Linked DNA regions of Homo sapiens: regions 1 and 2 are each linked to region 3. Evidence: fine-mapped expression QTL. A gene starts in region 3. Each other region holds a variant in brackets. All regions are shown on one strand. Distances are from middle to middle. Region 1 has its middle 25 kb from the start of UBE2F-SCLY. Region 2 overlaps SCLY (selenocysteine lyase). Region 3 holds the start of UBE2F (ubiquitin conjugating enzyme E2 F (putative)).

The links. PIP is the estimated chance that this variant, and not a neighbour inherited with it, causes the effect. A credible set is the group of variants that fine-mapping cannot tell apart.
Region 1: its variant is the best candidate, but not a certain one, in a credible set for the expression of UBE2F in left ventricle (GTEx, PIP 0.50).
Region 2: its variant is the best candidate, but not a certain one, in a credible set for the expression of UBE2F in thyroid (GTEx, PIP 0.82).

What each region holds. Positions count from the first base shown.
Region 1 is chr2:237,940,633-237,943,271 of GRCh38, reverse strand. No RefSeq gene overlaps it. Among named protein-coding and RNA genes, the nearest start is that of UBE2F-SCLY, 25 kb to the left of the region's middle. RefSeq lists an enhancer at 1,394-1,893. The variant C/T (reference allele first, on the strand shown) is at 1,455.
Region 2 is chr2:238,079,405-238,082,067 of GRCh38, reverse strand. SCLY (selenocysteine lyase) reads right to left here. Exons shown (of 12, transcript NM_016510.7): 5 at 232-359; 6 at 1-23. It overlaps UBE2F-SCLY (UBE2F-SCLY readthrough (NMD candidate)), which reads right to left. Exons shown (of 19, transcript NR_037904.1): 12 at 232-359; 13 at 1-23. Among named protein-coding and RNA genes, the nearest start is that of ESPNL, 20 kb to the left of the region's middle. The variant G/A (reference allele first, on the strand shown) is at 1,414.
Region 3 is chr2:237,965,578-237,968,240 of GRCh38, reverse strand. It overlaps UBE2F (ubiquitin conjugating enzyme E2 F (putative)), which reads right to left and starts at 1,227. Exons shown (of 10, transcript NM_080678.3): 1 at 1,109-1,227. It overlaps UBE2F-SCLY (UBE2F-SCLY readthrough (NMD candidate)), which reads right to left and starts at 1,296. Exons shown (of 19, transcript NR_037904.1): 1 at 1,109-1,296. RefSeq lists a silencer at 1,004-1,183.

The DNA.
Region 1 (2,639 bases), 25 kb after region 3:
GGTAACTTGACTATATGTCTCCTGGGTTGCAGTCCTCAAATTTGGCCCAAATAAACTCTCTAATTATACTTAAGAAAGACAGAGAGAGAGAGAAAAGAAAATCACAGAAGACAAGAATGAGCTGCATACAAACTTCTTGGTTCAGAGGGGCTTCATTACCCACCATTACAAAATTAGATAGGAAACCAAAAGTCAGCTGAAAATAACCTCTGAAGAACAATCTACTTATAGCCAGGTGTGGTGGCTCATGCCTACAATGCCAGCACTTTGGGAGGCCGAGGCAGGAGGATCACTTGAGCTCAGGCGTTCGAGACCAGCCTGGGCAATATAGTGAGACACCCCCGTTTCTAATATAATAAAAGGAAAAAAATTAATATGGCAAGTGATGTTAGTGAAAATACAATAAGGAACCCTGAAATTATTGTGCATTCTAAGAAGCAACAAAACATTGGCCCAAACTGCTGGAGTTAATTTCTTGGAACTCTGGAAATTAAACAAAGACTTGTAAGAAGTCAGGAAGCACTTGATAAGAGGAAGAGCTGAAGGAAGGGCTGGAGTCTCTGTAAGAGCAGCAGGCTTTGTGGCAGTTAACTTACTCTATTCCCCTCCCTGGCTCCCCAGCAAAGCAGGAAACTTGAAAATGAGAGGCCAGTTTAGGTGCAGTGGCTCACGCCTGTAATCCCAGCACTTTGGAAGTTCGACATGGGTGGATCATCTGAGGTCAGGAGTTTGAGACCATCCTGGCCAACGTGGTGAAATCCCGTCTCTACTAAAAATACAAAAGTTAGCCTGATGGCGTGTGCCTGTAATCCCAGCTAATCAGGAGGCTGAGGCACAAGAATTGCTTGAACCTGGGAGGTGGAGGTTGCAGTGAGCTATCACGCCACCGCACTCCAGCCTGGGTGACAGAGTGAGACTCCATCTCAAAAAAAAAGAGAGAGACCAAATATACAGACAATGGCCAGGCCATATACACAAACAGAACTCTCACCCACAACCGGTAACAACAAGCCCAGGAAGGAAGCCAAACCCTTATCTGCACATAACAACTCAGGAAGCCAGCATGCTACAAGTCAGACTTGTTGGAGGTCCAATTGCTCTCTCTAGAAACAATCCACAAAGTAAAAACAATTACTTCTGTGACAATTGGCCCCACGCAGCCAGTTGACTGGTTAATAACTAGACACTTTCCTAATTTTTGTCCCTGCTTCCAGCTGAGGACCAACCAGAGAAAGTCAATTTGCTCCCCTAAGCAATCATATAGAAGCCCCATTTCTAGCGAGCCCTCCAGCTTCCCTAGGTCAACAGCCTCCAATCTGCACACACCTGAGCCTTCCCTTTTCTCCAGCACGAAGCTTCCCCACTCCCCTGCCTGCTTTTGAGTGTCTGCTGAAACACAGGAGAGTGGCTTCCTCCCTTGTCATAGCAAGCTCTGAGTAGATAAATAGCCTTTG[C/T]TTCTCTCCTTATTTCCATACAGGTAACAGCACACATCCCCAGCACCAGAGAGAGCAGAACAGACCTCATTCTCAAAGAACTGTCATTATTTGACCTGTCTTCCCTGGAAGACCAGCTCAAAACACTTTATTTTTTTTTGACCCAGAACTTTCCCAGTGTTGAAGACTTACGCAGGGAGTGTTTGTGGAAAACACTTATAGCCAAAGGCTTTAGTTGTTGCTGCCCGAGGCAATAGATAACAGTTGAGAAAAACAATAATTGAAATTCTTCCTTTAATTGGAAATGGTGTTCAAAACAAGTATTTGAGTGCTCAGTGTGCTTATTGCTACTAAGGTGTTTGTGTGTGTGTGTGTGTGCATGTGTGTGTGTGCACGTGTGTGTGCATGTGTGTGTGTGCATATGTGTGTGTGTGTGTGTGTGTGTGTGTTTGAGATGGGGGTCTTTTTATGTTGCCCAGGCTGGTCTTGAATTCCTGGACTCAAGTGATCCTCTGACTTCAGCCTCTCAGGTAGCTAGGATTACAGACTCATGCACCATTCCCAGCTCAGGGTATTGGTTTTTAAAGGCCCTTTCAGCTAGCAGGGTAAAAAAATAGAGTCATGAACCACATGACAATGTTTGGGTCAATGATGGATGATATATTTGATGGTGGTCTCATAAGATTATAAGACTGTGGAGGCTAAAGCAATTCCATCTTGGACTCTAATCCACTATGGTGACTTCTCATTAACCCCTGTTCAGGGAGGCCTCTAAGATTTCTATTTTATCTACTATTACCATAAACCCTGGCCTTGGGTCAAAATGACCTTGGCCATAAATCCTGCCCTTAGGCAGATTCACATAGCATTCTTGCCCTTCCCTAGGGATCAGCTTCACTTGTCCTACCTGTTCCTTCCCCTATGGTAGGAATGGTGTGGGGGTCCACCAACTTTTGGCTACCTGAGACATGGCTTCTCTTCATAAGTCTTTATTAAATGCTTCTTTCTGAGGAGCTGGATTTGTCAGCCTCTTCTTTAGCCCTCAGCTTCCTTGGACTTTGGGGGTAGGTTTGCATGGACTGGACTGCTATGAAGCAAATACCATGTTTTTAACTGAACTTTTCTATGTTAAGATATGTTTACATGCATGAATACCACTGTGTCCCAATGGCCTACACTCTTCAGTACAATGACATGCCGCACAGA
Region 2 (2,663 bases), 110 kb before region 3:
CGCTGACTGATTTCAGGGACAGGCTGACGGGGAAAGGAAACAGTTGAGTATGTTGCTCCGATCTGATGAAAACTGAATGACAGAAATCAGGAGTAGTGAGCGCAGGCCAAATGTTATCAAAGTGAACAGAGAAACGGGAGAGGCCAGAGCTGGGAAACCTGAAACGCCATGAGTCTAAGCTGCTGTTCTTCCCCATGAGCTCTCCTTAAAGAGAAACAAAGGCCGACTCACCATGACAATGCCAGTCTCATTGTTGGCCAGCATGATGGTCACGAGGCGTGTGGTCGGGCGGACTGCCGCGAGGATGTCGTCCACCTCTGCCTGCCCGCTCACCTTGGACACCGGGACAAAGGTGACCGCTGGGAAACAAACATGAGTACCGAACTGAGCTGCACAAATTGATTCCTCTCAAAACTGCGTTCCAACAGAGCTTAACAGTTTTCTACAACTATAAAAGTAAATTGTTGTCCAAGTTCAGAAGACTATAAAGAAGAATATAAGCCGCCCATCATCACTGGCCCAGAGTCACTGTCAGGTGCTTCAGTGTGAACGTGTCTTTAACGCGGCTGCAGTCAGTGAATCTGTGTCGTGGAAGCTGTGTGCCTTTCTGCTTCTACGGAGACGGAAGAGGAAGAGGCAACAGGGATGCAGGCTCTTGCTTTTGGGGAGGGTCCTAGTGCACAGCACTTCACTGCCATGCATTTGGCACCGAGCCAGTGCTGATGAAGCCGCTCCTACGCGCCAGGCGCTGACTGCCCCGGGCACTGAGAGTCTCACTACTGCAGATGGAAAATGAGCAGAGGGGACTACATTGTTTAGCTTTAGTGCTTTGAGTTTAAAATGGTGAAAAACAAATGTATCCACTGCCCACTCAGGATCCTACTGAAATGAAAGAGAAAACAGCTACTTCTCCGACTAAGAATCAAATCAAAACAACACCAACAAAGGGTATCTGGCCAGGCGCAGTGGCTCACTTTGGAAGGCCGAGGTGGGTGGACTGCTTGAGCCCAGGGGTTCAAGACCAGCCTGGGCAACATAGGGAGATCACACCACTGCACTCCAGCCTGGGTGACACAGTAACACACTGTCTCAAATAAAAGGGGGTGGGAGGGGGTATGTGGACTAGGAATTTTGAGGAGTCCCTAAAATGTAGCAAGATGATGGCATTAGATTAACAGGGAAAAGAACACTTAAAGGCCAATCTGAAAGTATCCAGTGGCCACCCAAGTTCAGGGTGGACAGCGGGAAGCGCAGGGCACGGGCCAGCTACCGAGGCCGGCAGAGGTCAGCTTCCCAATGTCCGAACACGCCCTGCTCCCGTACACCAAGTCAGCGGCAGAGGTGCTGACCTCAGACTGAGACAGCACCACACGCCCAGAGAGGGCGGGCACAAGGTGGGCTCCCAGGATGGGG[G/A]AAGGATCTAGAAAAGGGGGAGGAGCTTGAGGCATCTGCTAGGGAACTCAGAGGAGCAAAGCAAAGGCAGCTCCGTCCAGGGAAGTCACGAGAAAAGTTGGGGGGGTCCACCCGGCTTGCCGGGCTCTGCTGCCACCACCTTATGCAGAGCCCACCGTGGGCCTTCCTTTCCTGGGAGACACCTCCTGGGGAAACGCATTGAGAACTGGAGATGAGCCATCCCTAGCCCCTACATCAAACAACGAAATGCTTCATCCATCCACAGGAACAATCCAGGATCCCCAAGCCTGAGGAAAAACCAGGATGAACAGGTAAATGACTGATTCTAGATCACATAGAAGCAATCCCAGGAACAGGAAAACTAAAAAAATTCTAACTGGTATCTTCAGTGTGTGGAAAAGCAGGAAAAAAGGCAAGTGATAAAAACTGCCTATGACTGTACTTAAAGAGATAAAGAAAAGTATGATGACAATGGCTCATCAAATAGAGAGTCCTCAAGATAAACAAGAGAGAAATTATGAAAAAGAACCAAAAGGAAATCCTGGAGTTGGAAAGTACAACCGATATGAAGAATTCACTGGAGGGGCTCCAGAGTATATTGGAACTGGCAGAAAATACATTTAGTCAACATGAAGGTAGATTTACAGAGATTACGAAATCCAAATATAAGACAGGAAAAACATGAGAAAGATAAACAGAGCCTCAGAGAAATGTGGGACACCATAAGGCACCAAATAGGGAAAACAGGAGTAGCAGAAGGGCAGGAGCAAGAGAAAGGGGCAGAAAAATGTCTCTGAAAAATAATGGCTGAAAACATCTCAAATGTAATGGAAAACACTAATCTACATACCTAAGAGGCTCAGTGAATTCTGGGTGGGATAAAACACAAAGACATTCACTCCCAGACACATGATAATGAAAATGTTGAAAGCCAAAGACAGAGAAACTATCTCGCAATCAGCAAAAGAGATTCCGTCTCAAAAAAGTAAAGGAAAAAAAGGGCAGTGTAACTGTATATTGCTTCTCTTAACTGATTTAAAAGCAACTGTATAAAATAACATGTATATAATTATTTTGTTAGGGCTATAACACACAATATTTCATAATAGCACAAAGGAGGTGGGAGGGAGCAGAATTGTCTATTAAGGAAAGGACACCAGATGATAATTCAGATCCATGGAACAAATGAAGATAATGTGAAAAGGCAACTAAGAAGATTACTCAAGCAAAATCTATAAACATATACTTGC
Region 3 (2,663 bases):
TAAGCTTGGTGTGATTCTGTCTCTCAATCTCTCTCTCTCTCCCACCTCTATGCTCCCCCTTGCCTTCATCTCACTCCTCAGCCAGGATTCCTCTGCACCAGGCAGGCCAGTTTCCTCTTTGTTCCTTCACAACACCCTGTTCATTTCCAGAAGCTTCTATTCAGTCTGATACCCAGGTCTAGAATGCCCTCCTTCCCTTCACAAACGAATCCTACCCCTTCCTTAAGGGGAAGATTCCTACCTACATCCCAACATCTCCTCCTCCAAGAAGCTTTCTCTGGCTATTCCAACCCATCCTGCCCCCACTTCCAGGCGGTCGGGAATGCAGAGTGGGGGGACCCAATTCTCTCCTGTGACAGATGAGGAAACTGAGCCCAGGGAGGGGAAGGCCACACCCAAGATGACACACCAGCAGAACTAGGTCTGGAACCAAGACTCTGCTGCACTAATTGTTCCAAGATGCCCTTCCTTCCTCGTCTCCTTTGCTGTGGTAAAAATTTTCCAAACTAGCCTGGCCGCCCCCAGTTGTAGGTAAGCGTCCATACTTACTCTTCCCGCTGCAGGTACGAGGACCGGGCGCGAGTTGTCACTCCCCTCACCTCCCCCGCTCCTCACGGCCTAGCGCGACTCCTGCCCCGATCGGGAGTCCAGTCCCGGTTTCTGCGGCCACGTCGGGCCGGTGACCTTGGCCAGGCGCTGGACGCCCCGCTTCCTCCGTACAAGGCAGGCAGCCGATCCCGCGAGTGGGGCGTGAGCGCGGCCAGGTCTGTGCCACGCTCGGCCCAGGGCCTGGTTCACACCAGGTGCTCGGCGCGGGCCGTCCCCCGCCGCCGCCGCCGCGGTCACTCACTGCCGGGCGAGGCCAGCGCCCCGGCCGCCGACGCCGCCTCCGACCCCCGGCTCGCGGCCCGCGGCCCGCGGCCCCTTCCCATTCACGCCGCTCGGCCTCGCGTCCGGGTGCCCGCGCCCGCCAGGCCCCCGGCGTGAGGAACCCGGCGGGCCCGAGGCGGCCCCGCCACCGCCCGCGCCCTCCGCCCGGCCCGCAGGCCAGCCCGTGCACCGGCGGCCGCACCTCGCCCCGCCGCAGAGCCGCACGGTCGCTCCTCACCTGGGCTCCCCGAGACAGGCGAGGCGGGCCCGGCGCCCAACACCATGCCCGGTCCGGGCGGCTGCTGCGAGACGCGGCCCCTCACAGCCGCACCGGCTCCCGGCGGCGGGACCGGAAGTGGCGGGGCGGGGACTCGGCCGCTCTCGCCCGCGGCAGCCGAGACAGCAGCGGGCGCTTTAAAAAAAAAATTCAAAGTCGCGAAAAACTTTATTTGGAACCAGACACGCGAACAGCGGCGTGCGCCGATCGGGACTGGGCTGGGCGACGGGCCTCTCGGACCTCGCTCATTGGCAGAGGGCGCGGCCAGGGGGCGGGCACGGATTTCGCAACCGCCGCTGATTGGCGAGTAGCGTTAGGGGCGGGGATTCCGAGTTGGCTCTGGAGCCCGAGCGCCGGAGGGCTGGGGGTTTTGCACCTGGTTCCAACACGGGTTCACTTCGTGGTCTGCAGGGTTTAGGGGCACGGAGGAGCCCGGGCTATCCTTCCCTGAAGGAGCGGCCTCCGTGGCTGGAGCTCCCGCTGTCCAGCGCCGCACCTGGAGTGCAAAGGACTGGACAGGCCCCCGCAGCCTGCAGTGCAGGCGGTGAGGGAGACCGGGCGGTCAGACACGCAAGCCACGACCAACCCCAAACCGTGTGCTGCGCCCACAGGCCCCACTGTTCTTGTCATGTCCCTTTTATTCCTTCTTTTCTCTCTTAAATGTGTTTAAAGTACCTTAAAAATCCATTTCAACTTGTCCTCTTTTGGGCGCCCAGATTCATCCCGCGCCCATTAGCGTCCTGTGTGATTGACGAGGGGCCGTCCTGGGCGTCAGGCAGGCCCCTGGAGGAGTGGGCCATTAGAAAGATGAGGTTCAGCATGGAAACGGTCAGAAAGAGACAAGGAGTTAGACTTTCATTTCGAAAAACCCCACTGAGAGGTTTCTAACAGTGGAGTGACTATCAGGTTTTCTTCCTAAAGGAGGCTGGCGGGCCCGGTGGCTCACGCCTGTAATCCTAGCACTTTGGGAGGCCAAAGTGGGAGGATCCCATGAGCCCAAGAGTTTAAGACCAGCCTCCTGATGGTGGCAAGACCCCATCGCTACAAAAAAAGAAAAAAAAAATTAGCCGCGTGGTGGCGCGCGCCTGTAGTCCCAGCTACTCAGGAGGCTGGGATGGGAGGATCACCTGAGCCCAGGAGGTTGAGGCTGCAGTGAGCCGTGATCGCACCACTGCACTCCAGCTTGGGTGACAGGGCAGACCCTGTCCCCATAATAATAATAAAGGCTTTGGCTCTAAGTGAGTCGGTGGGAATGGAGTCAGGAAAACTGGTCAAGAACACAACTCAGCCGGGCGCAGTGGCTCAGGCCTGTAATCCCAGCACTTTGGGAGGCCGAGGCAGACAGATCACCTGAGGTCAGGAGTTCAAGACCAGCCTGGCCAACATGGCAAAACCCCATCTCTACTAAAAATACAAAAAAGCCGGGCGTGGTGGTGCGCCCTTGTAATCCCAGCTATTTGGAACGCTGAGGCAGGAGAATTGCTTGAACCCAGGAGGCGGAGGTTGCAGTGAGCTG